5 linked regions of the Homo sapiens genome follow. The protein of the gene in region 2 purifies or fractionates together with the protein of the main gene of each other region. This does not show direct contact. Each region holds a gene or a part of one and is shown on either strand. Other genes may lie near its edges.

Region 1 (6,237 bases), on a different chromosome or scaffold from region 2:
CCGGCCGCACCTGTACCTGAACCCTTATTTTCTTCCTCAGTGACTTTTGTTTGATCATTTGTCAAAAATGTTTTGAAATCTTTCAGTCCACTCTTCATTTCTTCAGCTCTCTGTATTAACTTGGCAGCTCTGCCAGTATCTACAAGTTTATGGGGAGTTTGAAGTGGTATGTCTAACAGAAGCCGCTGGCATTCCTCAAATTTCTGCTTGAATTCTTCAGCCAGCTCTGGTGTTTTAAATTTTGCTGCCAACCGCTCTAGTTTGGCATCACCGTCAGAGAAATCACTGGCTGACCACATCCATGCTCTATCTGATCCAGAGAGGGGCTTCAGGTTCATTGTAGTCGTTATCCAATGATTAGCACACACTTTTAGTACTTGTTCTCTTCGCATCAGCATTCTTAGTTTGCCATTGACCTCGTTTTTGAGAATTTTTAAGTTCCCCAAGCCCCTTTCTTTCCACTGCCTTACCTCAGCATCAAATCTAAATAGTTTTACCCCCTGTGAATACAGAACTTTTTCACCTTCTTCTCCTGTTACAAGTTCTACTTTTTCAGGCATTTGAACTACTGGTTCAAAATGGATGTCATCGCTGTCCTCAGTCTTATAGGCATCATCATCTTTCTCAAAGTCACCGGAAGTGTTTGCTTTATTGGCCATTTTACCGTATCGTGATGAGAATAATTTTTCTCCAGCACCTGAAAATCCCTTGAAATTGAGGTCTTTTTTGCCAAACTGAAATCCTTCTCCTGAAGTTGATTTTGCAACATCTGCAAATGTAAAAGTGCTACTTGTTTGGCCAAAAATCACACCACGGCCCTTCTTCCGGCCACTAATATCCTGAGCCTGGAAGCCAGTATCATTTTCAAGAGGCTTTTCCCTTTTCTTTTCTTGATTTCCTGGTTCCGAAATGCCAAATTTAAATCCATCAGCAGACACAGGGATGGAAAATCCTTCTTTGGTTGACTTAAATTCTGTATTAGAAGAACCCTGAAACATAAATGAAGGTGAATTTTCTTGATCCACATGCCCAAAATAGTCATGAAATAAATACCTTCTTCATTCCTAAACAATTTATCAAATGATGTTAACAATAATGATGATGATGATGATGATAACATTTATTGAGCATTCATTAATGTGCCAGCTGGGCACTGTTCTAAGCACTTTACATTATTATCTCATTTTAATATCCTCAAAAACCCTATGAATTAAGGTATTATTATTATCCTCATTTTACATATGAGGCAACTGATGCATTGAGAGGTTAAGAAACTTGCCTGTGGTCAAAATAAGCAGAAGAGCAAGGGTCTAAATGCACCCCAACACTCTGTCCTCAAAGCTGTCACATTCAACTACCACTGTAATATTGAGTCTTCAATCAATTGTTATATATATAGCTGTATCAGGCCTGAAAGTACTTACCACATAGTGGGTCAGCAAGGGCATTACAGTTCTATTTCTGTTAAAACAGAACGATGAAGGATCCACCACCACCACTCCCATTTTTAAAATATTCTAAATATTCACACTTACTAACACAAAAATAAGGTGACTAAGAAGGATAATTTCTGTATTTGGAGATAAATTTAAAATATCTACATTTTAAGGGACATAAAAGTTTTAATAGTGAACTGCTCTCTTGAATTTATTTGAAGGAACCCTAAACAATTTAAAAAGAAAATAATTATAAATGTATAAATTATTCCTTTGTTACCTTTGTGGGAGTAACATTAGCTGCTGGTCTGAGAAGATACTGGGAATTATATGCTGGTGACTGACTATAATATACTGAAGGGCCAGTAGTTGCAACTGAAAAAAAAAAAAGAAAAGAAAACACTGTTAAAGTCTATACTACAGTTAAGACTATCTAGGCAAGAGCTATAAATACAAAAGCAATAGAAGTTAAAGAAAGATTTAACTACATAAATTTTAAATTTCTGTACATCAAAATACACCAATCAAGATTATCAAATGACAAACTAGAAAAAAATTGCTAAATATGACATGAAGAATGAGAGAATAGCATCGCTGTGATCAACAAGAACTACCTCGCAAGCATTAAAAAAGGAATAAAGAAGATAGTAACTGTTGCCTTTTCTAAGAAAGATCAGTATGATGTGGAATTATGGACATTCAGTCACAGAAAGGACGTAAGGAACCAAGATGCCATCTGATAGTCAATGCATTTGAAGTGGGCCTAGAAAATCTGCAGAAAGACTAGGTTGTATTTTGTAAACTAAAGCTATTACTCAGAATGTTCAGCTCAAAAATCACCTGACAAATTCATGGAAAGGATGTCATAAATAACATAAAATGTGTTCCCTGGCTTAAAATAAAAAGCACATCAACACTCATACAGATGTACAAACTGTCTGCTCCCTCTGTTTGGTCTGTTTTACCAGGAAACAAAATGACTAGAAGGCACCCATGTTAATGACAAAACTACCAATAGTCATTTGCTTGAACTGTTTTATGATAGTTTTACCAGAAAACAACCAAAAGACCTTTTATGCCTGTACATGGAAGGAGAAACAGAAACTGTGCCAAGAGGTTCCAAACAATTGCCTCTGGAAAGCACTGAAAAATCAAGACCTAGAAAAGGCTAGCCAGAAGCCCAAGTTTGATTTCGGAAACCTTACAGAGGTGAGGATAGCTATTTTGAAATTACTATGGGGAGGAAGCAGGCACAGAACACAGAACAACCTGACAGAAATGGCCCAAGAATCTTAAAGTCTTGCAAGATGTCTGTCTGCATGAAAGCAAAAAGAAAAAATAAAATATTAAATAAAAAAAAATCTTAGTCTGAAGTTTAAGTAGGGACTTTAATTGACTACTGACTCTAAACTGTGCGGCTCTAATAAATCTACTAAAAGTAATCTAATTTTTTAAAGCACCATATGAATAGACAATTTAGGAAAGAAATGTTAATAGGCCTCAAGGAACATGTTTTTGAAGTGAGCCTTGAAAATCTGCAAAATGACGAGGTTGCATTGTGCAAATTGAAGCTATTATGAGAATGTTCAGGTCAAAAAAATTACCTGACAAATTCACGCACAGGATCTCACAAGGAACACAAATGTGTTCGTTGGCTTTAAAAAAATCACATTAACATTCATGTTGATATACAAAAACTCTTCTCCATCTGTTTTGTGTGAGTTTTACCAAGAAACCAAACAACTGGAAGGTACGTTGAAGATGGCAAAACTACCAACTGCCATTTGCATGAATTGTTGAGCATGACTAGTATTAAAAAAACTTAAAAATTGATATCACTTTTGTTCCTACAAATTGGCAAAGGATTTTATAAACTAGTAAGTCAGCATTAGCAAAAGTGCGAAAATGGCACTATCAGATACTAGCGGTAAGAGCATAAACTGAATATTTTGAATACCCTACAAAACTAGGACAGTGTCCTAGAATTTGTAATGGCATAAACCAGAAACAACATAAATAAAGGAACAGAATTTACAGTACTTCCATGTGATGGGATACCATGAACTCATTAATATTCAAAAAACATTTAAGTTTAAAAATGCTCAGAACTAAAGTAACATTTTAAAAACAGGCTAGCTCATCTACACACAACATAGTAACATGGTAACAATCTCATAAAAAATACTATATGTATAGAGAAAGAACCAGAAGGAAATGCTCTCAAATATAAGAAATGTTAATGAGGTGGTTAGCTTTTAGTTTTCTTCACCCTGTTCAGTACTTCTGAGTATCTCCTATGAGCTCATTAATCTTTAATTTTAATCATCTTATTTTAAAAAAACAAGGACCATCTTGATATATGTTTACTTTTATTAAGGAAAAAGAATCTATGAACACAGGAACAGAAATCAGGAGATCTTGGCTCTCGCCCTTTCAGTGCCACAAAGCTGTTTTGTGAACCTGTAAATAATCCATTTGGAGTCTCCATGTTTCTCAATTGTAAAATGACGATGTGCTGCTTCTACACATTTCACAGGGTCATTGCAAGAATAAAATGAGACAATGAGAATGTTGGATTTACATGCTTGTATAAGAACAGAAGACCTTTTATGCCTGTACACAGAAGAAATGGAAATCATGACCCACAAGGCACCAAATAACTGACTGCACACATCACTAAAAAAGCCCCAGGAAAGGCTAGCCGGTTTGTTTATCCTCTTACAAGGACCTATATGATGTGTAAGGTTTTAAGAAAACAAGGTTTGAACGTTAGACATTTCATATACTTATCTATGACTTACGACATTTAATAAGCTTGACTTCACAAAGATTTTCTGTTATTTTGCTTGTGTTGAGAAGATACTATCACAAAAGGCTAGTGGGGTTGCCTTAACTATAGGAACCATCACACAAATGTGCTCATCTAAACTAGATTTTTTTCTAAATCTTTCCTGGGCTAAAAAGAGAAAAAAAAAAAGGGCACTACTACTACCATTTCAGAAGTCTGTCGTACGTAAAAGGAACAATTTTGTTATTTCTGGCTGCCTGGGAGCAATGTATTATACTGGCAAGTGCTTTGGAGTTACACCACTGGAGTGTGAATCTCGGCTCTATCAATAACTAGCTGTATAATAATGAGTAAGTTACCTAACCTTTCTTTATCCATTTCCTTATTTATAAAAAAGGGATTAATAATGGTACCGGCCATTCTAAGTTACTGTAATTAAATCAAATTACATTCACACAGCACTTTTGCACACAGCCAACCCACAGTAAACACTATTAGTAACCTTAGTTCATTAACTGTTTACTGTATACTCTAATAAATGTCTGATACACACCCACGCCCACCTGCACATACACAAATGCTCATAGTAATTATGTAAGGCAAGTATTATCTCCACATTTCAGACAGGTTAACTTACACAGCTATTATAGTAAGTGATAGAGCAGAACTTAAAAACCCAGTATGATTCAGGTCCAAACTCCTTTTCTTTCTTTATATAACCATAATATTTCAAATTAAGTAAGATTTCCTATATAACGTCCTGCCTCTCATCATTATCATCAAAATAATTCCCCAGAGGTGTAGGTTCTTAATTAAGCATTTCTTAGTGCATAACTCTATTCAATAACATTTTGCAATTTAAGGAATAATCTCATCTCAGCTCATCTGAGGTGTGGATTAAGTGTTCTTTAAGCCTTTATATACACGTGATCACATACGGCTCGTTTTTTCTGCTTGGGATTATAAAAATCTCCGTAACACCTAATACAGCTTTTGAAGTCACATATAAACAGACGTTGACATGTATATTAACAAACATATATAAACAAGGTGATTTCACACGTTATCTACTTAAAAGAGGGAAGTAAAGTAGTTTTACTAAAATATGCGATTATCCACTTGCCAGCTCACCTGTTAGTGGAGCCCCATGAAATGTCTGTGACCCCTGATATCCATCAGGCACCGAGTCTGGTCCATAATTCTCTGTGGGCCAACGATGACGGGATGCTGACTTACTGCTATTTAGTTTCAACTCCTGCATTTCTTTCTATTGGAAGAAAAAAAAAATCAAATAATTTTAATCATTTAATTATATCATGCCAGAAACAGTGCTGGGGAAACTTACTCTTTTAAATTTAAATAACTGATTTTTTCTTTTTTTCTTTTTTGAGATGGTGTCTCGATCTGTCGTCCAGGCTGGAGTGCAATGGCACAATCTTGGCTCACCGCAACCTCCACCTCCTGGGCTCAAGCAATTCTCCCACCTCAGCCTCCCGAGTAGCTGGGATTACAGGCGTCAGCCAGCACGCCCGGCTAATTTTTGGTATAATAGTAGAGATGGGGTTTCACCATGTTTGCCAGGCTAGTCTTGAACTCCTGACCTCAAGTGATCCACCACCTCAGCCTCCCAAAGTGCTGGGATTATAGGTGTGACCCACCACGCCCGGACCTGATTATATCTTTTGAAAGTTTCTATTTGCCAAAGAGTTCTAGGTACCTGGTGCTGATTTTAAAATATGATTCTTAATTTGTTAAAAATTTATCTGCTCCCATTTTCATTCGTTAATACAAAACCTAATTCATTAACTCTCTCACCTAAACAAATAACCTCCTAAATGATCACACCTTCATTTCCATTCTACACTTGCCTACATTAACCTTTCTGACGTTCACCTCCAGCCAAGACAATTCCCTGCTCAAAAAAACAAGTACCTACAAACTAAACTTCTTTCCCCAACTTTCACAGTCCTCTAACATTACACTGACCATCCTTTCAGTGTGTTCTTTCTACAC
Region 2 (6,090 bases):
GCTGCCGTCCCTGGCCTGGGGCCTCCCTGCAGTGATGGGAATGTAGCCCTGGTGCCCCCACACCCTGCCCTTCAGGAGCCGTGGTTTCCTTCTGCTCTCTCCTGGGAGGCGCACACCCCTCTGCACCCAGAGCCAAGGAGGGCAGGCAGCCCTGGGACCCTCTTCAGGCACCGCAGCCAGGGTCTGTGTTACCCACAGGTCCTCTGGATGTCAGCATGGCAGCCACAAACCTGGAGAACCAGCTGCACAGCGCACAGAAGAACCTCCTGTTCCTTCAGCGGGAGCATGCCAGCACGCTCAAGGGGCTGCACTCCGAGATCAGGCGGCTGCAGCAGCACTGCACAGGTACATCGGGGAGCAGGCCCGGGCAGGCGGGGGGCGGCTATGGGGCACGGCAGAGCCCAGCGTCAGAATGTGCTAGGCCTGCCCTGCCCCCAGCTCCCATCATCGTTGCAGGAGTCCATCTGAATGCCTTATATCATCCTCATTGCATAATCAAGATGCACTAAGCATAAAGCTGCAAAGCCTTTTCTTGGCATACTGAGGACTTAAGAGATTAAAATACAATGGTTAGAATCTCCAATGTGTTTTGGAACTGATAACCAAGATATAGCCTGTGTGATACATAGAGCCAGCTGCTGGATTGTTTGGTTTGGATGGTTGGGATATGCTGTGGGGGAATGGGGAAGGGAGTTTGGGGGAACAGAGGGTGCCCTCTGACCCCAGGGAGCACAGTGGCCGCAGATGTTTTCTGCTGCTCTCATGCTCACCTCTCCTGCTGCCAAACCCTGCTCTGTCTGGGTAGGACTCGCTGGCTAATCGTGGGAATCGGTTTTGCATTTTCAAAGCTGATGAAGATTTTGAAATGTACAGTAAAAGAATTAATGTGTAACATTTCCCTTTTAGATTTAACATATGAGCTGACAGTCAAAAGTTCGGAACAGACAGGTAAGAACTCCTCCCCAGAAGTAAATGACAGTAGGTTTCCCTTTGTGGTACGTGTTGGTGCCGTTTTCACTAGTCACACACTTAGGAGAAAATGCTCTTGCTGGGAAGAGTTATGCGTGTGGCCTGAGCTCTCTAAGAGAAGATGAGAAGGATGTTTGGATCCCTCCGTGTTGCAAGTGGTTATTAGTGGGCAGGGGGATGAGTGATTTTGTTTTCTTTTGAATGACACATATATTTGGAATGCCTATTATATGTTTTTCTGATTTTCCTACAATGAACATGTGTTCCTTGTGTAATCAGGACATAAAAATAGACGTGAGTTAAACCCAAAAGGAGGAGTAACAGCAGCAGCAGCATTGGGCAGAACCGCCCCCGCTCCTCCGTGTCGCTGCCGCCTAGCATGGGCCTGGCACAGAGCAGCAGCTTGCTAAATGCTGGCGGGCGAGTGGTCACATTACTAGACAGCTCCCTGAGGATCTGGGGCTTTCTCTGGACTACAGCCCCAGAACCCTCCCCAAACCAGAATCCTCCAGGACCTCAGGAAACCCCAAAGGGCAGCTGCCTGCTGGCCGCCAGAGAAGAGACAGAAACCCAGGCCTTCCCAGGGCCCTCTGTGCCTGCTGCAAAGAGCCTGCTCCCTAAAACAGGGTGGGTGTTTGGAAAGTGCTGAATCCATGTTTGTGCAGAGACACCTGTTGGAAACGGGTTTATCACGTCGGGAAGGCAATGGATGGCTCAGCAAGGCTAGTTTACTTTCTGCAGAAAGGGTGCAACTCGCCAGCAGTCTTACCACGAGAGCACACTCAAACAAAGGAGACGAGGACATTTATAATCTTCATAACCTGATGCAATTGCCCTATGACTGTGTCCAGTTTCCATTGACTGGAATGGGACCTCACATTCTAAGCTTGACCCGATTGGCTAACAGCTTGAAACTTTCCTAAATAGGCAAAAGGGAAAGAGGACAAAGAAAAGAGGAAGCTAGTCATGAGAGGGTCAGGAGAGTTTCCAAATAAGGAAGAGCATGCACTATGGTCCAGGGCTCGCTCAGCCCTGCGCAGGCGTGCCGGGGCAAGGCGGAGCAGCTACACTGGAACATATATAGAGATATACATAGAGCAAGGAAATGACAAGCTCTTTATGGTTTCAAGAAACTTTGAAGAACTTCTCCATTCCCCACAATGCCTTTTTCTAAACAGGCCTCACAATGGCAGTTACTATTCATGAGAGTGTCCAGTTCCTTGTAAAAGACACAGACCATTTCCACCAAGCCTTAGTGGATTACCGAGCACTGATTTTTTTCCATTTGCATTGCTCATATTACAGCCTCCTGAGTGCGCCACCCAGGAGCCCAGACATCTTTTTGTCTGCGTGTGGTAGGGAAGGCGCCGTGGGCTTCTTGGGGTGGTGGAATGGGAGCCTGTCCTCAGAAGTCTCCCTGTGGAGGGATACCAGGGACCTCCCCCGAAGCCCTGGGACTGGGAGCTGGGCCTGTGGGAATGCAGAGGAACAGGATTTCAGCCTGACACTAGGGACCTCCAGCGTCCACACCTGCCAGCACTGAAGCCTTGGGAAAGGAGCTACCCGTGTCATGGAAGCCAGGGCGTCCTCGCTCCCTGTCCTCTCCTGGCCCAGGCTAATCTGAAGCAGCATAGTTTTGCCCTGTGGCCTCTCCAGTCACGGTTCTCAACCTGAGGTCCCAAGGCCACCTGCCCACCCACCCACCCACCTGATGTAGTACTCCCAGCAGCAGCAGGGTCTCACAGCAAGGGCTGTGTCTTAGGGGAGGCAGTTTCAAAAGCCTCTCAGGTGGTTCCAGTCGGGGCGTCTCCCCTCCCAGTGGTGAAAATCATTGTTTTACATTAGTGCACCCAAAACTGCCCAATTCCAAGCAGTTTCGGGACCCAGGGTACAGCATAGACTCTTGGCTTCCCTCCCCTGGGGGCTGTGACCCCAGAAGTCTGGGCGGGCCCAGGGAGTGCGCAGGTTTAGAAGCGTTGCAGTGCCCTGACGCTCGGGCAGGCTCAGCAGTGCAGCGTTTGGAGACCAGCAGCAGTTGGCTGCTGTCAGCTCAGTGTGCACCAAGCTTTCATGGGAAGACTGAAATTTCCAGAAAGGGGGTACGTACAGAGGAGGAGGTGGAGTGGAGCTTTCTATAAAGAGCAAGAAATTGGCAAAACAGGAGGTGCTGATTCCTGGGAAGGACAGTCACTGAAGCAGCTCTCCAGAGCTGGGGATGGAGGAGCAGTCGTACCAGCTCCTTCCCACAGGACGGCCCACTCAAGTCGGGGCCGGTAAACATCAGCCCGGAGCCAAGGCTGCACCCTGGAGGAGGAGGCAGCACAGCTAGATGACTCTCAAGGAAGGATGATGAGGAGGATGTCTATCCAGGAGGAGCTTCTCTCAGGATGCTGTGGCGAAAAGAACCAGAGTGATGCTTAATGAGCCCCAGATTTGGGCCTCTGCTCTGACTCGGAGGGGCTGTGTGGCCTTGGGCAGGTTCTTTGACATCTCTGAACCTGCATCTTCATCTGACAGGTGCCCCACAAATCCAAGTCCCCAGTCCGACCACCAGGGCCCTCTGCCTTTGTGGGCTGCCCCTCACAGGACATGAGCAAAGCCCAGGGACAGCCTTGTTCCTGAATGTTCCAAACGTCCATCAGCCTTTTGCAGCACTGCCTGGGGGAAGAAAAATCCCAGGATGCTCACAGCAGGCCAGGGATGTGGTTGAAGGTCTGAGGTTGCAGCCCTTCCTCGGAAGGAGCCCAAGGCCCACTGTCCACCCGAGTGTGGGCTGAAAGCAAAGGCCCTGCGACAGGCATGGGTTGTTGTCCCACAGGCCCTGGGGGAAGGACAGCGGGTACCAGGCCCAATGCCGTGCCCAGGTCAGCATTTCAGGTTGCAGGGGTTCAGCCCAGGTGGCTGGGCTCCTGGGTCTTACAGTGTCTACAGAGTCGTGTGTGTGTCTCTGTCCCTCTCTCTACCTCTGAAACTGTGTTTTAGGATCTATTTTCCTTTTGGCAAAAGAAGAAACCTCATGAAAGGTAGTACTGCATGCATCCTTTTTAGGGAGGTCATTTGCTGACATTATACCTGCACATACACACACAGACACATGGTTTTTAAAACTAGAAACTTGCAATGGTTCAACTTAAAATTTTTCAACTGCATGGGGCAATACCCATTCAGTACACTCCTCGACTTACCATGGATATGTCCAGATAAACCCATGGTAAGCTGAAAATATCGAAAACACACTTTTGACTTACGGTATTTTCAACTTACATTGGATTTTTCGGGACATGACCCCATGCTAAGTCGAGGAGCGCCCATCACCTGCAGCGAGCTTGTAACATGCAAGTGTCCTGCACAAGACCAGTCCAGTCAGCTGTGGGCCCTCAAAAGCTCAGAGTCTGGCGGCGGGACATGCTGCAGAGCTGCTGCTAGCTCAGGCAGGTGGGAAAATTCAAAGCAAGACAGACAGAAGCCCGGGAAAGACGTCCAGTGGCGTCCAGTGCCTAGGCAGGCCCTGGGTGGTGGAGTTGGTACAGGGAAACTGGGCGTGCAGGTCTGGAGTTAGGGCAAGGACAGAGGGTACAATAGAGACAGAACAAGAGGTGGTGGCTTGGGGAGAGTGATGGAAGCTTTGATTTATGTGGGAGCAGATAACATTCAGGACAGATTGAGGAACTGGAAGGCATCTGGCAGTTTGGGTTTTATTAGGCAGTGAGGAACCATTTTGAACAGAGGACAAGAATATTTAGGGGGTGACCAAGCTTCCTAAATACAGGATGGGCTGAAACGAAGACCAGAGAGGAGGTGGGACCAAGGCCGGCTGGAGGAGCAGGGAGGGGGCAGCACTGAGCAGCCAGCAGAAAGGCACAGTCAGGGAGGGGAGGCCAGGGATGGCGACTGCATCCAGTTTCCCTGGGAGAGTCAAGATGTGGGAAGCAGAGCAGCTATCTGGACTTGAGGGTGTGTCTGACGGACACTCACTTGGAGAAGTGGTGCTCAGGAGACACTGAATCGGGAGCTGATGCTCAAGTTGAATTCCAGACCAGCAAGGAAGAGTCTAGAAAGAACTTCCCAGGGGCCAGGCAAGGAGGATGGCCAGCCAGCCAGCGTTAGGAGGAGTAGGATGGTGACCCAGGGTTTAGAGCCAAGGGTGCTATGTGAGGTGACCAGGGACTGCAGGTCACCAGAAGAGCAGGAGAAGGAGGTGGCTGGTGTTTGCTGAAGGACTGGGTGAGGGCAGGCACCCAGGGACAGCAAAAGGAGGCAGAGGCCCGAAGTGTTAGGGCAGGGGCAGGGAGGGACCAAGGGTAAGAGCCACAGAGGCGAGACAGCTCACTCTCTGAGCAGGAAGTGGGAAAGAGTCTGTGTGTGTGTGTGTGTGAGAGAGACGGGGGTAGGGGGGTGAGAGAGGCGGCCAGCGGCAGAGCAAAGGTGACAGCCCCACACCTCTTCTCCTCTAAACATCAGAATTTTAATTCAATAGACATGGATAATTCTTTTTACATTTGAGTTTCAAAACAGTACTTTGAATGTAGCAGGCATTCCATAAATGCCATCTGAGCAGACAGAGGGATTTGCGGCCAGTTGAATCCTAAGTGTTTGCTGAGGTCTGATACTCTGCAATTGCCTGTTTTAAGTTCAGCATCTTTAAGGTTCAGAGACATTCTTTTATGCAGTAGGCCAGAGAACTAAGAGCCGGAAAGGGCCTCTGAGATGCCCCGATCTCCCCACCTCGGGGAGGGGAGGGGTCTTTCCAGAGCCCCCACAGCCCTGCCTTCTGCATGGCCCCCACAGCCTAGACAGGGCCCCCACCAGACAGGTCCGCCTGCCCCATAGGCCTCACCACTCGGCCTCAGTCTAATGAGTTCTTCACCTGCTTCCTCGGCTTATTCTTGTAGGAGACGGGACTTCTAAAAGCAGTGAATTAAAGAAAAGATGTGAAGAGCTGGAAGCCCAACTGAAAGTGAAAGAGAACGAAAATGCTGAGTTGTTGAAAGAACTGGAGCAGAAAAACGCGATGATCACAGTGCTGGAGAACACCATCAAGGAGCGAGAGAAGAAGTACCTGGAGGAGCTGAAGGCCAAGAGTCACAAGCTGACCCTGCTGTCTAGCGAGCTGGAGCAGCG
Region 3 (6,107 bases), on a different chromosome or scaffold from region 2:
ATCTATTAGCCCTCTAGTTTATATTAGCTTAAAACTTCACTAGTGTAAAGAGTTGGATGTCTAACTTTTGTCAAGTTCTACTTAGGCAGTATTTCACAGATGGGTGCAACAAATTCACATTTCATGTCATGAAATATACCCTATATTCATTTCCTAGGGACACTATAATAAAGTATCACAAACTGGGTGACTTAAAACAGCAGGAACTTATTCTCTCATGTTTTTGAGGCTAGAAGGCTGAAATCAAGGTGTCAGCGCCCTGTTCTCTCTGAAGCCTGTTGGGAGAATCCTTCCTTGTTTCTTGTAGCTTCTGCTGGTTGCCAGCAATCCTTGACGTTCTGTGGCTTGCAAACGTGTAATTTCAACCTCTGCCTTCACCTTTACATGGACTGCTGTGTGTCAGTAACTTCACATCATCTTCCCTCTGGGTGTCTCTGTGTCCAAATTTCCTTGTAAGGACACTACTCATTGGATTAGGGCCCACCCTAATGTCATCTTAACTTGATTACATCAGCAAAGATGCCCTACCTCCTCTCCATTTATTTATTTATTTATTTAGAGACGAGAGTCTCACTCTGTCGCTCAGGCTGGAGTGCAGTGGTGTGATCTGGGATCACTGCAACCTCTGCCTCCCGGGTTCAAGCAATTCTCCTGCCTCAGCCTCCTAAGTAGCTGGGACTACAGGCATGTGCCACCATGCCCAGCTAATTTTTCTGTTTAGTAGATGGGGTTTCACCATGCTGGCCAGGCTGGTCTTGAACTCCTGACCTCAGGTGATATACCCGCCTCCGCCTCCCAAAGTGCTGGGATTACAGGCGTGACCACTGCACCTGGCTTCCTCTCCATTGAGGAATATGATCATGTTCACAGGTACTGGGGGTACCTGAACTTGAACACATATTTTTGGGGAACATTATTCAACCCACAACACACACTTTCTGATTTCTCTTGTGTAATGATTAGATCAGTAGTTCCCATCTTGGGGCTCTTGAGATTTTTAGGTGTTCCCAAAGTTATATACCTTGAAAGTCCCTGCCATGACACTTATTAGACCAGATTTTTTGATATGTTGTTAAGTCATCCTGACCCTGTTTATGTACAAACTCAATCTTTGTGTGGTTGATGGTCTACATGAGATATGTCAAGTGTTTGTCAATGGATTTGGTCCATAGTAAATGTTCACTAAGAGGAAGAGGCAGTATTTAGGAACATATATTCTATGTTAAACAGCCTAGGTTGAAATGTTGACTTCTCTTATTTGCTATGCGATCCCGTGCAAGTTCCTGAATTTTGCTGTGCCTTGGTTTTGTTATATAACTCCTGGAAGTGTGACGATGGCCACATGAGTTCATACATGAAAACCTCTTAGAAAATGCTTGGGACACATTAAAAACTCAGTAACTGTTAGCTACTATTACCTTCAAAATATAACCAAGTGACAAAAGGGGAGTACAACTAATCCTCAGAAAATCAGATTAATATTCTGGCTTTGCGACCTGTACAAAGTACTTAATTTCCCAGTTTAGTGCCTTTGTCTGTGAAATGATACGTAACTTTTATGGCTATTATGATGATAAAGTAAGAAATGCATGCCAAGTGCCTAACATAAAATCAATGCTAAGAAATGGTAGCTATTATTAGTAATAATGATAAAGAATTTTGCAAAAATTTCCCTTTAAATCCTAGGCGTTGGTCATATTGAATTACTTGTAGTTTCTCAAACATGTTCTCTTGTTTTCATGTGTACCTGCTGTCTTGCTTTGCTACTCCACTGTATTCTTCACTTGATTGCCTCCTACTAGTTCTTCAAGATGCAGGTGTTTCCTTCCCTGGAAAACATTTCCTAAAGTCAGGGGACGTGTTTTCTGTTTTCCTCTATTATTGTACTTCTTATACTCTCTAATTTTCTATTGACCTATTTTCTTCCAATATAAGACACTTTCTTCTTGTGTGATTTTCAGATAAGCTACTAAAGTCTTGGTTTCCTCATCTGTGAAACAGGGATGTAAAAATTAAATGAGATGCACTTGGCACTTAGGCCAATGTCTAGCACCTTCCCCAATCCCAAGAACATAATAGGCAGTCAACAGGTGTTTACTTATGAAATGAAAATAATGATTTACAAATTTTATTCAATCTAAAAAAAAAATCAGAATGTGTAGACCATACATAGGAGAGAGGGCATCCCCCCAAAATCTGATGTTAAGTGAATAAAATCAATGTCATGAAGCAGAATGGTGGTTGCCAGAGGCTGGGGAAAAGAGGGAATAGACAGTTATTGTTTAATGAATACAGTTTCAATTGTATAAGATGAAAATAATTCTGAAGATGGATGGTGGTGATGGTTGTACAACTTATGAACATATGTAATATACTGAACTGTACACTTAAAATAGTTATGACAAATTTTATTGTATATATTGCACCACATTGAAAAAAAATCAACATCATGAATGAGATTAAAACAAAGGTCATTTTAAGAGAATATTTCTCAGGCCAGGAAAGACCTGGTTATAGCCTAATTAGTAGTGATATTAACAGTAGGGGACTAGTCAGCATGGAAACACACACAAAAAACAGAGTCACGTTGCCAGGGGAGATGATCAATCTGGGGACTAGATAATTCCAGTCACTTTAAAATAATTTTGTTACAAAGCAGGGGTGGTTTATCAACTTCACCACGGCCTAAAAGAAATATGCTCATGCATAAACCTCTGAACAGGTGATTTGGTGTGCAGAGTGCTTTGGCTTTGCTGTTTAGAGAGAAGAACACTGGAAAACAGGTGGGTGTAGGTGTTGTCAATGAAAAGAAAGATTATCCTTTGTAAATTAATGAGATGGTATCCTGATTTATGCATATGTCCCTTCTGTTCTGAGTCTGTTTATTAGGAGTAAGTTTCCCTTTCTCTGATCAACTCAAGATTGACTTTATAGGTATGAAAAATCCAAAGCAAAACCCTCAGCAATCATGACCTACCAATAAATGAAATGACAGTTTAGGAATCCTTCTGATCCCCCAAAACCACAACAGGGCAAAGTTCATTGGTAAACAGCAAAAAAAATTACATGAACACTATAAACATTTTTTAGATATTTTGTCTTTTTTTCAAAGGAATAATAGTAACAAAAAAACAAGAGAGCTCATAAAAAGTATTCTGAGTATAAGGAACATAATCTTAATATTCCATACTACTCATTTTTCAAAGAATATATCCAAGACTTTGAAAGTGGAATCAGAAATGGAAAAAGGACCAAAAAGAAAAAAAAAGATAGTGAAGAGAATCCAGAAATAATTTGGTGGCAGGTTTTTATTTTATTCATTTATTTTTGAGACAGAGTCTTGCTGTGTTGCCCAGGCTGGTGTGCAGTGGCAAGATCTCAGCTCACTGCAACCTCTGCCTCCCAGGCTCAAGCGATTCTCGTGCCTCAGCCTCCTGAGTAGCTGAGATTATAGGTGTGCGCCACCATGCCTGGCTGATTTTATATTTTTAGTAGAGACAGGGTTTTGCCATATTGGCCAGGCTGGTCTTGAACTCCTAGACTCAAGTGATTTGCCCATCTTGGCCTCCCAAAGTGCTGGGAATTATAGGTGTTAGCCACCGCGCCCAGCCCTGAAGCAGGCTTTTAGATAAGATTGCATGTCCATGAAAATTTTGAGGGAAGAAAAAAACTTCCACCCTGTTGCAAAGATTAAGGCAGTGAAAGGAATCTGAAAAACACTGGATCTATTATGACCAAGCTTGTCTGCTCTTAATGCATTCCAAACTCCTAGTTCCACTTTGCATTTCAATGTAGAAATATAACAGTGTTGGTAACAAAGTAACATCTGACATTCCATGATAATTCTTGGGGAAAGGAAGTCTCTTTTGTGAAATATAGATGGAGTCAAATGCCTTAGGAGAAGTTTTGGTCAAAACGTGGTCCTCTACATGAGCTCTAGAAGAAATCATTCGGCTCCTTCTACTGCTGTCGTGGAAACAGGTTTCACATAGTATGGCCCTTCACTCAGGTAAGTTCTGAGCCTCAAATAATTTGGGTTCCCAAAGATTTCTGCAATTGTCTTGGAATTGGCAAGTGCTTTCACTAGTTCATATTTGGCATCCTTTGAAGCTTTGTCATGCTCCACAGACCGGTCCACCACATATTCTACAAAACCTGGACTGTTAAACATAAGTTTCTGAGCCCAGGGTTGGTTTGCAATGGCCTGAAATGGAAGGCAGAAAGAATACAATTCCCCTGAGTGGAAGTTGTTTGTTAATGGGATGGCACAATATTTACAAAGAAATCTGGCAACATGAACTTTAAAAATGTTACCTTTTGTCTAAGTAAATTCCTTCCTGAGAATCTAACTTAATAAAATAATCTTAAATATGAAAAATCTTTGTATACAAAAATGTTCATAATAGTGTGAAAGTTACAATATAAATATCTAATAATGGGAGAATGGTTAAGTAAATTATGGTATATAGCAATAAAAATAAACATTAACAATAATGTTTACAAAAAATAGGAAATGATACAGGTAAACCTGTTATATAAAAAAAGCAGATTCAAATTATAAACAATGCATGATTACAACAGTGGAAAAATAAAAACTAAAGTAGAAAAGACTAACCTCAAGATACTCATATAGTGCACAAACATTTTCAAGAATGTTCATTGTGGTATCATTTGTAAGATACTATCTAAATCTTCATTTATAGGAGAATGATATATTGTGGCTATTCAATGAAATACCAACTTTCTAACTGCCTCTTTTAACATAGACAAATTTTAAAAAAACGTAACATTGAAGAGAAAAAAAAAAAAAGCAAAAACTGCAATTACTTTTGCACCAACCTAATGGAATGATACAAACAGCATGATACCACTTACAAAGTTTATGAATATCTAAAATACTGTGTTTTATTTAAGGATACACACAATATGTAGTAGAAATATGAAATCATTTATGGGCCCTGACTTTGTGATAGTGATTTTATCTAAGAACAGAGGAAGGGGAATAGGACTGGGCAGAGGTAGCAAGATACAACTATATTTGAAATATTTCACCAAAAATAAACACACACTAATACAAAAACTAAAAGGAAATACACCAAAAGGTAGAACTTTCTGTGATTTTAAAAAATTCTACTTCTAAGTCTTTTCCAAATTTTAAGATTAAGTTTTTCAAAACCTATTACGTTTTAATGAAAAAGAAGTAACAAGTTTATGGCCTAGTTTTTTCCTCTCAAAATGTGTTCCACAGACAAGTAGCATCAGCAACACCTGCGAGCTTGTTAGACTTTCAGGATCCCAGGCTCTGCCCCACAACTACTGAATTAGAATCTACATTTTAATAAGATTCCTAAGATTAATGTTTGAGAAACTTTGGCCTGCTTCACAACCAAGCATGAAAGTAGGCAGAAATAAAAATAGTTATCCCAACCAGTAAATAGAAAATTATTTCTACAATGGAACCAGCTAAGCACAGGATAAGGTAGAAGAGCAAAACCAAAATAAACTAATAATGAAAATACTAAGCAGGATCCAAAATGGCCATCTCATACAATGACCATTTACAAGGGTGAAGCAGTCTTAAAGAAATGTTTCTGGCTAGGCGCGGTGGCTCACGCCTGTAATCCCAGCACTCTGGGAGGCCGAGGCGGGCGGATCACAAGGTCAGGAGATCGAGACCATCCTGGCTAACACAGTGAAACCCCGTCTCTACTAGAAATACAAAAAGAAATTAGTCGGGCATGGTGGTGGGCGCCCGTAGGCTAGCTGCTCGGGAGGCTGAGGCAGGAGAATGGCGTGAACCCGGGAGGTGGTGCTTGCAGTGAGCCAAGATCACGCCACTGCATTCCAGCCTGGGCGACAGAGCGAGACTCTGTCTCAAAAAAAAAAATGTTTCTGAAGATTATAGGAATACCTGTATCCTTCAAGACCCAGATCCTGTATCGCATCCTCAGGAAGCCTTCCCTCTTTTGTCCCTGCCATTTTCCTTATTCCCTCCCAGTCTAGGCCATGTATGCTGTCTGAGATCCCATTATTGATATGATTACTAAAGCGATTACTATCTTGCTATGCTGGGGCTACAAAGATAAATCAGATATGCTTCCTGCTCT
Region 4 (6,237 bases), on a different chromosome or scaffold from region 2:
CCCATCTCTACTAAAAAATACAAAAATTAGTTGGATGTGGTGGTGCACGCCTGTGATCCCAGCTACTTGAGAAGCTGAGGCACAAGGATCGCATGAGCCTGGGATGGGGAGGTTGCAGTGAGCCGAGCTGGCATCACTGCACTCCAGACTGGGCAACAAGCGAAACTAAAAAAAAAAAAAAAAAAAGGCAAGGCGCAGTGGCTAATGCCTGTTATCCCAGCACTTTGGGAGGCCGAGGCTGGTGGATCACCCTGAGGTCAAGAGTTTGAGACCAGCCTGACCAATATGGTGAAACCCCATCTCTACTAAAAATACAAAAATTAGCCAGGTGTGGGGCGTGTACCCGTAGTCCCAGCTACTTGGGAAGCAGAGGTTACACTGAGCTGAGATCATGCCACTGGACTCCGGCCTAGGCGACAGAGTGAGACTCCATCTTAAAAAAAAAAAAAAATCTTAAAACTTGATCTCCACACACAAGTTACAATGTACTGAGGTTCACAAAAACACAGAGTTAAAAATCCCAGAAGTAGAGGGCAATACAAATTAATTCCCAAATGAGTGGTACACGCAATATGTATTATGGTTCCAGAAGAAGGATCAAGGAATTATTTGGGGATATTATCACATATTTTTAAAATATTCAAACTTGTAAAATAGGAATAGCATACTTATCTCCTTTTTAATACTCCAATTAAGGATAAAACATACCTAAATAATATTTTTTCCCCACAAAACTCAGTTACAAAGGGAAGATGTTCCCACTGTATATCTATAATCTGATATTAACTGGTTATATGGCTAATCCATTTTTAAAACACGAACTGTAATTTAAATCTATGGGAATCATCAAGCTCTATCATAATGTCTGATGATGCAGCCATTAGCCACCCAGCTTTTACTGTTCCCTCAGCCAAAAAGACTAATATGAGAAAATGCAGACACATCTCCTTTTCTCTCACTCTCTCTCTCTATTTCCCAGCACACAAGTATACGATTTCCTGGAGAGGATTTTTTTTTTCCTTTATCAATTGTAGAAAACAACTTTTTTTTTTTTTTTTTTTTTTTTTTTTTTTTTGAGACGGAGTCTCGCTCTGTCGCCCAGGTTGGAGTGCAGTGGCGGGATCTCGGCTCACTGCAAGCTCCGCCTCCCGGGTTCACGCCATTCTCCTGCCTCAGCCTCCCAAGTAGCTGGGACTACAGGCGCCCGCCACTACGCCCGGCTAATTTTTTGTATTTTTAGTAGAGACGGGGTTTCACCGTTTTAGCCGGGATGGTCTCCATCTCCTGACCTCGTGATCCGCCCGCCTCGGCCTCCCAAAGTGCTGGGATTACAGGCGTGAGCCACCGCGCCCGGCCAGAAAACAACTTTTAAAGCTGGGATTACAGGCATGCACCACTGCACCCAGCTGGAAAAGGCTTTAGGTATCAAACCAACTGTGTAAGACAGTTCAAGATAGCAATAAAAAGACTGTGTGGCAAAGGAATTTCTGGTCCTTAGGGAAATGGCAGCTCATCTAAATGCCCAGCTGGATGGATTATTTGTGTATTTGTGAATAAACTAGCTTGTTTCTACCTTTTCAGTGATTCATTTCTGGGGATCATTAGAGAAGCCTTTTGGAGAAAGCACACTTCATACCTCCTTTGTGACCTTTGAAGGTCACCACGCAGCTAGCATCTTCAGCTGACCATATCTTCAGCTGGGCATCCATTCCCCCACTCAGGACCACAAGGCCTGATGGGAAAAACCTGCAACAATTCACATCAAACACATGTCCTTCCAATACTCTCTGGAAAAACAAAAGAAAATTCCATGCTAGTTCTCTTGTCCATCCCTTGATGTTCTCTTACCTCCCATACTCTGGTCCCTTATATGAAATACCTACATGCTAAACCCACATGCTGGGTTTTAAAACTAAGGATATCCAAAGGATCTCTTAGCTCATTTGTCTAGCAGGCAGTGTTCTAAAAGGTGTTTCCTCGAATTCAGCTATAGAGGTTATAGAACTGAATTCCATGTAAAAACACCCCAGAGCCTAGGTTAAAAAAAAAAAAAAAGAATTCCATGGCTTTCACAGCCATCTCTAGATCTAGTTAAAGAGCTGAGGTGGCTTGGGGACTTTTTCACTCATCTCTGTTTAAAATCCTTTGTAAAGGTTGGAGGCTCAGCCATAGATTCAGTCTAACAGCCAAGCTATTCTGTCTTGGAAATGGATCACTGAAGGCAATTAAAAAACAAGGGCACACCCACTTAGACCTTCACTGGTCTGGCTCCTTAACTGCTCCAGCCCCACTCTGTTCTGCCAAATCACTGAGCTTGAGAAAGGTTCTCGAATTGACAGCTGAGAGGCCAGGAGCGGTGGCTCACACCTGTAATCCCAGCACTTTGGGAGGCCAAGGTGGGCAGATCACTTGACGTGAGGAGTTGGAAACCAGCCTGGCCGACATGGCGAAAGCCCATCTCTACTAAAAATACAAAAATTAGATGTGTGTGGTGGCACATGCCTGTAATCTCAGCTACTTGGGAGGCTGAGGCACAAGAATCGCTTGAACCCAGGAGGCGGAGGTTGCAGTGAGCTGAGATCACACCACTGCACTCCAGCCTGGGCAACACAGCAAGACTGTCTCAAAAAAAAAAAAAAAAAAAAAAAGAGAAAAAGAAAAAGAAACACACAAATGGGAGAAAAGAGATCAACTGACATGCAGAGTGGTCCCACATTTTTAGAATGGGCCATTCTTCCTTCCATGTCCCAGTCCAAGGCTTCTCAGACCACCCTTTGTGTTTAAGACCTAAAAGTACATCCAAATCCTTTACCCTGAGTTCTCCATTGGAAGCCTGCCAGATTTTCATGGTCCCGTCAGTACTAGAAGACACACCAAGACCTCCTCTGCTGGAAATGTCCAGGCATGTTATCTGTTCAAAGAGAAAACAAACAATGTGTTAGAAATAATGAAATACTCTTATTCCCTTGAAATATGTTATAAACTTCCCTTTTTTCACTCTTCCAAGACTTCCTGAAGCCTGTGTTTCCCAACAAAAGGACTTGTGTTTGATGTAAAGGTTGAGTTATCATCACCAACCTCCCAACAAGGCTGAAGTAAACACCTTTTACTTCTTCAAACAAAAAGATATTCCTCTAATCATCTGAAGTCTAATGCTTCAGCTAAAAAGTTTTCCCTATCCCCATTTCATTTCCATAGTTTCCATGTGTTGCATTTATTTATTTGTTTGTTTGTTTGTTTGTTTGACAGAGTTTCACTCCCATCACCCAGGCTGGAGTGCAATGTCCCCATCTCAGCTCACTGCAACCTCTGCCTCCCAGGCTCAAGTGATTCTCCTGCCTCAGCCTCCCGAGTAGCTGGGACTACAGGCGCACACCACTGTGCCTTATTTCTGTATTTTTCGGTAGAGACAGAGTTTCACCATGTTGCCCAAGTTAGTCTCAAACTCCTGAGCTCAAGTGATTCTCCCATCTCAGCCTCCCAGAGTGCTGGGATTATAGGCCACCGTGCCCAGCCCTGCTATTTTATTTTAAAATTAAGACCAGGTGCAGTGGCTCACACCTGTGTAATCCCAACACTCTGGGAGGCCAAGGCAGGAAGATTACTTGAGCCCAGGAGTTCGAGACCAGCCTGGGCAATATAATGAGACTCCATCTCTACAAAAAATTTTAAAGTAAATATAAAAAATAAAAAGAAAATTAAGATACCTCTCCTAATTCTTAGGAACCCACTTACACAAAAGATAATGTTCTAAGATGCACCAGGAGGATTCAAGAGTTCAGCTATTCCTCTCCCTCTCCCTCTCCTTCTCCCTCTCCCTCTCCCTCTCCCTCTCCCTCCCCCTTCCCCTCCCCCTCCCTCTCCCCACGGTCTCCCTCTCCCTCTCTTTCCACGGTCTCCCTCTGATGCCCAGCTGGACGGTACTGCTGCCATCTCAGCTCACTGCAACCTCCCTGCCTGATTCTCCTGCCTCAGCTTGCCGAGTGCCTGCAATTGCAGGCGCGCGCCGCCACGCCTGACTGGTTTTCGTGTTTTTTTGGTGGAGACGGGGATTCGCTGTGTTGGCTGGGCTGGTCTGCAGCTCCTAACCATGAGTGATCCGCCAGCCTCGGCCTCCCGAGGTGCCGGGATTGCAGACGGAGTCTCGTTCACTCAGTGCTCAATGGTGCCCCAGGCTGGAGTGCAGTGGTGTGATCTCGGCTCGCTACAACCTCCACCTCCCAGCAGCCTGCCTTGGCCTCCCAAAGTGCCGAGATTGCAGCCTCTGCCCGGCCGCCACCCTGTCTGGGAAGTGAGGAGCATCTCTGCCTGGCCGCCCATCTTCTGGGATGTGAGGAGCCCCTCTGCCTGGCTGCCCAGTCTGGAAAGTGAGGAGCCTCTCTGCCCGGCCGCCCAGTCTGGAAAGTGAGGAGCCTCTCTGCCCGGCCGCCATCCCATCTAGGAAGTGAGGAGCGCCTCTTCCCGGCCGCCATCACATCTGGGAAGTGAGGAGCGTCTCTGCCCGGCCGCCCATCGTCTGAGATGTGGGGAGCACCTCTGCCCTGCCACCCTGTCCGGGATGTGAGGAGCGTCTCTGCCCGGCCGCCCCGTCTGAGAAGTGAGGAGACCCTCTGCCTGGCAACCGCCCCGTCTGAGAAGTGAGGAGCCCCTCCGCCCAGCAGCCACCCCGTCTGAGAAGTGAGGAGCCCCTCCGCCCAGCAGCCACCCCGTCTGGGAAGTGAGGAGCGTCTCCGCCTGGCAGCCACCTCGTCCGGGAGGGAAGTGGGGGGGTCAGCCCCCCACACGGCCAGCCGCCCCGTCCGGGAGGGAGGTGGGGGGGGTCAGCCCCCCGCCCGGCCAGCCGCCCCGTCCGGGAGGGAGGTGGGGGGGTCAGCCCCCCGCACGGCCAGCCGCCCCGTCCGGGAGGTGAGGGGCGCCTCTGCCCGGCCGCCCCTACTGGGAAGTGAGGAGCCACTCTGCCCGGCCAGCCGCCCCGTCTGGGAGGTGAGGGGCGCCTCTGCCCGGCCGCCCCTACTGGGAAGTGAGGAGCCCCTCTGCCCGGCCAGCCGCCCCGTCCAGGAGGGAGGTGGGGGGGTCAGCCCCCCCGCCCGGCCAGCCGCCCCGTCGGGGAGGGAGGTCTGGGGGGTCAGCCCCCCCGTCCGGCCAGCCGCCCCGTCCGGGAGGTGAGGGGCGCCTCTGCCTGGCCGCGCCTACTGGGAAGTGAGGAGCCCCTCTGCCCGGCCACCACCCCGTCTGGGAGGTGTACCCAACAGCTCATTGAGAACGGGCCATGAGGACAATGGCGGTTTTGTAGAATAGAAAGGGGGGAAAGGTGGGGAAAAGATTGAGAATCGGATGGTTGCCGTGTCTGTGTAGAAAGAGGTAGACATGGGAGACTTTTCATTTTGTTCCGTACTAAGAAAAATTCTTCTGCCTTGGGATCCTGTTGATCGGTGACCTTACCCCCAACCCTGTGCTCTCTGAAACATGTGCTGTATCCACTCAGGGTTGAATGGATTAAGGGCGGTGCAAGATGTGCTTTGTTAAACAGATGCTTGAAGGCAGCATGCTCCTTAAGAGTCATCACCACTCCCTAATCTCAAGTACCCAGGGACACAAACACTGCGGAAGGCCGCAGGGTCCTCTGCCTAGGAAAACCAGAGACCTTTGTTCACTTGTTTATCTGCTGACCTTCTCTCCACTATTGTCCTGTGACCCTGCCAAATCCCCCTCTGCGAGAAACACCCAAGAATGATCAATAAAAAAAAAAATAAATAAAAAAGAAAAAAAGAAAAAAAGAAACATCGTAAAAAAAAAAAAAAAGAGTTCAGATATTTCCACATATACCTATATATAGGTATAGCTATAGAAAATATACAGATATAGATCTTTCAGAATAAAGAATAGAGAAATTTCAGATTCACTTTTTGTTTTCCAAACTCACTTTTATAGTTTTTGTGTTTTTTTTAAAGACAGGGTCTCACTCTGTTGCTCAGGCTGAAGTGCAGGGGCATGATTACAACTCACTACAGCCTTAGCCTCTCAGGAACAAGTGATCCTCCTGCCTGAGCTTCCCAATAGCTGAGATTACAAACATGGGCTGGCATGTCCAGCTAATTTTTTAACTTTTTTTTGGAGAGATGGGGTCCCCCTATGTTGCCCAGGGTGGTCTTGAACTCCTGGGCTCAAGCTATCCTTCTGCCTTGGCCTCCCAAAGTGCTAGGATCACAGGCGTGAGCCACCGCGCCCAGCCTCACT
Region 5 (6,237 bases), on a different chromosome or scaffold from region 2:
CTGCTGGTCTGAGAAGATACTGGGAATTATATGCTGGTGACTGACTATAATATACTGAAGGGCCAGTAGTTGCAACTGAAAAAAAAAAAAGAAAAGAAAGAAAACACTGTTAAAGTCTATACTACAGTTAAGACTATCTAGGCAAGAGCTATAAATACAAAAGCAATAGAAATTAAAGAAAGATTTAACTACATAAATTTTAAATTTCTGTACATCAAAATACACCAATCAAGATTATCAAATGACAAACTAGAAAAAAATTGCTAAATATGACATGAAGAATGAGAGAATAGCATCGCTGTGATCAACAAGAACTACCTCGCAAGCATTAAAAAAGGAATAAAGAAGATAGTAACTGTTGCCTTTTCTAAGAAAGATCAGTATGATGTGGAATTATGGACATTCAGTCACAGAAAGGACGTAAGGAACCAAGATGCCATCTGATAGTCAATGCATTTGAAGTGGGCCTAGAAAATCTGCAGAAAGACTAGGTTGTATTTTGTAAACTAAAGCTATTACTGAGAATGTTCAGCTCAAAAATCACCTGACAAATTCATGGAAAGGATGTCATAAATAACATAAAATGTGTTCCCTGGCTTAAAATAAAAAGCACATCAACACTCATACAGATGTACAAACTGTCTGCTCCCTCTGTTTGGTCTGTTTTGCCAGGAAACAAAATGACTAGAAGGCACCCATGTTAATGACAAAACTACCAATAGTCATTTGCTTGAACTGTTTTATGATAGTTTTACCAGAAAACAACCAAAAGACCTTTTATGCCTGTACATGGAAGAAGAAACAGAAACTGTGCCAAGAGGTTCCAAACAATTGCCTCTGGAAAGCACTGAAAAATCAAGACCTAGAAAAGGCTAGCCAGAAGCCCAAGTTTGATTTCGGAAACCTTACAGAGGTGAGGATAGCTATTTTGAAATTACTATGGGGAGGAAGCAGGCACAGAACACAGAACAACCTGACAGAAATGGCCCAAGAATCTTAAAGTCTTGCAAGATGTCTGTCTGCATGAAAGCAAAAAGAAAAAATAAAATATTAAATAAAAAAAAATCTTAGTCTGAAGTTTAAGTAGGGACTTTAATTGACTACTGACTCTAAACTGTGCGGCTCTAATAAATCTACTAAAAGTAATCTAATTTTTTAAAGCACCATATGAATAGACAATTTAGGAAAGAAATGTTAATAGGCCTCAAGGAACATGTTTTTGAAGTGAGCCTTGAAAATCTGCAAAATGACGAGGTTGCATTGTGCAAATTGAAGCTATTATGAGAATGTTCAGGTCAAAAAAATTACCTGACAAATTCACGCACAGGATCTCACAAGGAACACAAATGTGTTCGTTGGCTTTAAAAAAATCACATTAACATTCATGTTGATATACAAAAACTCTTCTCCATCTGTTTTGTGTGAGTTTTACCAAGAAACCAAACAACTGGAAGGTACGTTGAAGATGGCAAAACTACCAACTGCCATTTGCATGAATTGTTGAGCATGACTAGTATTAAAAAAACTTAAAAATTGATATCACTTTTGTTCCTACAAATTGGCAAAGGATTTTATAAACTAGTAAGTCAGCATTAGCAAAAGTGCGAAAATGGCACTATCAGATACTAGCGGTAAGAGCATAAACTGAATATTTTGAATACCCTACAAAACTAGGACAGTGTCCTAGAATTTGTAATGGCATAAACCAGAAACAACATAAATAAAGGAACAGAATTTACAGTACTTCCATGTGATGGGATACCATGAACTCATTAATATTCAAAAAACATTTAAGTTTAAAAATGCTCAGAACTAAAGTAACATTTTAAAAACAGGCTAGCTCATCTACACACAACATAGTAACATGGTAACAATCTCATAAAAAATACTATATGTATAGAGAAAGAACCAGAAGGAAATGCTCTCAAATATAAGAAATGTTAATAAGGTGGTTAGCTTTTAGTTTTCTTCACCCTGTTCAGTACTTCTGAGTATCTCCTATGAGCTCATTAATCTTTAATTTTAATCATCTTATTTTAAAAAAACAAGGACCATCTTGATATATGTTTACTTTTATTAAGGAAAAAGAATCTATGAACACAGGAACAGAAATCAGGAGATCTTGGCTCTCGCCCTTTCAGTGCCACAAAGCTGTTTTGTGAACCTGTAAATAATCCATTTGGAGTCTCCATGTTTCTCAATTGTAAAATGACGATGTGCTGCTTCTACACATTTCACAGGGTCATTGCAAGAATAAAATGAGACAATGAGAATGTTGGATTTACATGCTTGTATAAGAACAGAAGACCTTTTATGCCTGTACACAGAAGAAATGGAAATCATGACCCACAAGGCACCAAATAACTGACTGCACACATCACTAAAAAAGCCCCAGGAAAGGCTAGCCGGTTTGTTTATCCTCTTACAAGGACCTATATGATGTGTAAGGTTTTAAGAAAACAAGGTTTGAACGTTAGACATTTCATATACTTATCTATGACTTACGACATTTAATAAGCTTGACTTCACAAAGATTTTCTGTTATTTTGCTTGTGTTGAGAAGATACTATCACAAAAGGCTAGTGGGGTTGCCTTAACTATAGGAACCATCACACAAATGTGCTCATCTAAACTAGATTTTTTTCTAAATCTTTCCTGGGCTAAAAAGAGAAAAAAAAAAAGGGCACTACTACTACCATTTCAGAAGTCTGTCGTACGTAAAAGGAACAATTTTGTTATTTCTGGCTGCCTGGGAGCAATGTATTATACTGGCAAGTGCTTTGGAGTTACACCACTGGAGTGTGAATCTCGGCTCTATCAATAACTAGCTGTATAATAATGAGTAAGTTACCTAACCTTTCTTTATCCATTTCCTTATTTATAAAAAAGGGATTAATAATGGTGCCGGCCATTCTAAGTTACTGTAATTAAATCAAATTACATTCACACAGCACTTTTGCACACAGCCAACCCACAGTAAACACTATTAGTAACCTTAGTTCATTAACTGTTTACTGTATACTCTAATAAATGTCTGATACACACCCACGCCCACCTGCACATACACAAATGCTCATAGTAATTATGTAAGGCAAGTATTATCTCCACATTTCAGACAGGTTAACTTACACAGCTATTATAGTAAGTGATAGAGCAGAACTTAAAAACCCAGTATGATTCAGGTCCAAACTCCTTTTCTTTCTTTATATAACCATAATATTTCAAATTAAGTAAGATTTCCTATATAACGTCCTGCCTCTCATCATTATCATCAAAATAATTCCCCAGAGGTGTAGGTTCTTAATTAAGCATTTCTTAGTGCATAACTCTATTCAATAACATTTTGCAATTTAAGGAATAATCTCATCTCAGCTCATCTGAGGTGTGGATTAAGTGTTCTTTAAGCCTTTATATACACGTGATCACATACGGCTCGTTTTTTCTGCTTGGGATTATAAAAATCTCCGTAACACCTAATACAGCTTTTGAAGTCACATATAAACAGACGTTGACATGTATATTAACAAACATATATAAACAAGGTGATTTCACACGTTATCTACTTAAAAGAGGGAAGTAAAGTAGTTTTACTAAAATATGCGATTATCCACTTGCCAGCTCACCTGTTAGTGGAGCCCCATGAAATGTCTGTGACCCCTGATATCCATCAGGCACCGAGTCTGGTCCATAATTCTCTGTGGGCCAACGATGACGGGATGCTGACTTACTGCTATTTAGTTTCAACTCCTGCATTTCTTTCTATTGGAAGAAAAAAAAAATCAAATAATTTTAATCATTTAATTATATCATGCCAGAAACAGTGCTGGGGAAACTTACTCTTTTAAATTTAAATAACTGATTTTTTCTTTTTTTCTTTTTTGAGATGGTGTCTCGATCTGTCGTCCAGGCTGGAGTGCAATGGCACAATCTTGGCTCACCGCAACCTCCACCTCCTGGGCTCAAGCAATTCTCCCACCTCAGCCTCCCGAGTAGCTGGGATTACAGGCGTCAGCCAGCACGCCCGGCTAATTTTTGGTATAATAGTAGAGATGGGGTTTCACCATGTTTGCCAGGCTAGTCTTGAACTCCTGACCTCAAGTGATCCACCACCTCAGCCTCCCAAAGTGCTGGGATTATAGGTGTGACCCACCACGCCCGGACCTGATTATATCTTTTGAAAGTTTCTATTTGCCAAAGAGTTCTAGGTACCTGGTGCTGATTTTAAAATATGATTCTTAATTTGTTAAAAATTTATCTGCTCCCATTTTCATTCGTTAATACAAAACCTAATTCATTAACTCTCTCACCTAAACAAATAACCTCCTAAATGATCACACCTTCATTTCCATTCTACACTTGCCTACATTAACCTTTCTGACGTTCACCTCCAGCCAAGACAATTCCCTGCTCAAAAAAACAAGTACCTACAAACTAAACTTCTTTCCCCAACTTTCACAGTCCTCTAACATTACACTGACCATCCTTTCAGTGTGTTCTTTCTACACTGCAACCTGGACTACCTGACATTCCAAATCACCTCCCCAAATTAGCTTTTCACTTAACCCTGTGTTCAAACAAAATACAACTAATTCTCAAGGTGATGTTCAAATGCTCCACCAGGAAAGGGAAAAAAGTAGTAGCTGCAGAGAATTTATTATGTATATAATAATACGTCCAATGCACTTAAACTCTTAATTTTTACACCATCTACACTGTTAGGTAAACAATATTAGCTCCTATCTTAAAATGAGAGAAACGGATGCAGGGAATAACAGCTGGAATTTGAAACACATCTGACTCCAAAAATGTTTTCTTAACACAACTCTGCTGCCTTGACAAGATGGCAGATAGATCCAATGCCGTCTAGTGTAGCTATGTGGCTACCTGATCTCTGCTGAAGAAAACTAAATGACAGCACCATACCCAACACCCTAGAACCTACAAAATGTCCCCTTACAAAACAGACACTTAACAGGAAATTCTTTTTCCAAAGAAATTGTAGTGGTATCAGAAAACAGGTAAATTTTGAAAAGTTTCAAACTTCTCTGTATCAGCCCAGGAATCCGATCAGTTCTAACAAGTGAGGTCAGGGACAGATCTAGCATGTCTGCTTTCTGTTTCTACAAGTGTTTCAATTAAAAATTTCCCAGAAAGACCTAACCATGAGGTCCAAAACTATCTCAATTTTCAAGCTAAATAAAATTTCCCCCATTCATCCATCTACAGTGCCTAGTCCAGATGCTACACATACACATCCAAGAAATAAGAAACTAGTGGAATCACCTAGAAAACTTTATAGTCACTGTTGGTATCCGCACCAGAGCTTTGAATTTGCAATCACTGCTGTAACTGTAATTTTTAACATTCAGTGTGATGAGAACTGGCTTCAATAATTCTCTCATTTTAAAGATAAGAAGCCAAACAGTCACAAAGGAAGTGACTGGCCCAAGATCATTAATTAATGGCAGAGTCAGTACTAGTACCAAGCTTTTCAAGCTCATGGACTAGTGCTCCACTATACTTCCACAGAATACAATGTTGGGAGCCTGAAACCTGTATGTTAAGTCAAAATTGTATGTAATTGTCATAGGCCACGACTACACAGAATTAACATTCAAAATTTTTGTGCAAATTCAAAAATGTCTTCCCCACCAAATAGTATTCTCTTAATTTGCAAATGCTGCTGATCACACTGTAATAATCGCCACACATCAGCATATCCTTGATGTAACTTTAGCAGTATGAGTAATTTAGTTCTTGCTTGATAAACATGAAAGAACCTACTTTTATTTCCAATTCCAAAAAAGTCAAGCTCCTTTGAACCCTATTGTTAAAATAAGATATATATACATAACTATTTCCTTACATAATTAAGTCAAATTCATATGGAAGTATTAAAATATAGTAAGACTTTTTGAAGCTCAGACCACTTTTCGATTCCTAGCTATACATTTGAAACACATGTAATCCACAGCTAATCTGGGAATGAACTCATAGACCAGAGTATGATTAGTACATTGTAGCACTTCAATCACTCGGGAACCTTCTCTGTGTCAGGAACTCTTATATTTTAAATAAAACAGTTTCTACCTTTGAAGGTCTCAAATTTTGTGGAAGATGAGGAGAGAGACACATAAAGTACTTTCAAAAATATGGTAAAGGGCTGGGTGCGGTGGTTTACACCTGTAATCCCAGCACTTTGGGAGGCCAAGGTGGGCAGATCACCTGAGGTCAGAA

Evidence for each region.
Region 1: the proteins of CCDC92 (region 2) and RGPD5 purify together in Homo sapiens (affinity purification with mass spectrometry, with the first as the bait; one large-scale study listed by BioGRID). This does not show direct contact.
Region 3: the proteins of CCDC92 (region 2) and PSMD5 purify together in Homo sapiens (affinity purification with mass spectrometry; one large-scale study listed by BioGRID and IntAct). This does not show direct contact.
Region 4: the proteins of CCDC92 (region 2) and PAAF1 purify together in Homo sapiens (affinity purification with mass spectrometry; one large-scale study listed by BioGRID and IntAct). This does not show direct contact.
Region 5: the proteins of CCDC92 (region 2) and RGPD8 purify together in Homo sapiens (affinity purification with mass spectrometry; one large-scale study listed by BioGRID and IntAct). This does not show direct contact.

Annotation. Positions count from the first base shown.
Region 1 is NC_000002.12:109,830,571-109,836,807, reverse strand, and holds part of RGPD5 (RANBP2-like and GRIP domain-containing protein 5/6), read right to left. Parts: intron 5,492-6,237; coding exon 5,356-5,491; intron 3,958-5,355; coding exon of another isoform or gene 3,845-3,957; exon of another isoform or gene 3,789-3,844; intron 1,812-3,788; coding exon 1,717-1,811; intron 990-1,716; coding exon 1-989.
Region 2 is NC_000012.12:123,937,602-123,943,691, reverse strand, and holds part of CCDC92 (coiled-coil domain-containing protein 92), read left to right. Parts: intron 1-198; coding exon 199-345; intron 346-906; coding exon 907-948; intron 949-5,861; coding exon 5,862-6,090.
Region 3 is NC_000009.12:120,813,960-120,820,066, forward strand, and holds the end of PSMD5 (26S proteasome non-ATPase regulatory subunit 5), read right to left. Parts: intron 4,205-6,107; coding exon 3,947-4,204; 3' UTR 2,094-3,946; downstream 1-2,093. UniProt on the Homo sapiens protein: Acts as a chaperone during the assembly of the 26S proteasome, specifically of the base subcomplex of the PA700/19S regulatory complex (RC).
Region 4 is NC_000011.10:73,895,820-73,902,056, reverse strand, and holds part of PAAF1 (proteasomal ATPase-associated factor 1), read right to left. Parts: intron 2,912-6,237; coding exon 2,813-2,911; intron 1,788-2,812; coding exon 1,637-1,787; intron 1-1,636. UniProt on the Homo sapiens protein: Inhibits proteasome 26S assembly and proteolytic activity by impairing the association of the 19S regulatory complex with the 20S core.
Region 5 is NC_000002.12:112,390,995-112,397,231, forward strand, and holds part of RGPD8 (RANBP2-like and GRIP domain-containing protein 8), read right to left. Parts: intron 3,760-6,237; coding exon 3,624-3,759; intron 2,226-3,623; coding exon of another isoform or gene 2,113-2,225; intron 76-2,112; coding exon 1-75.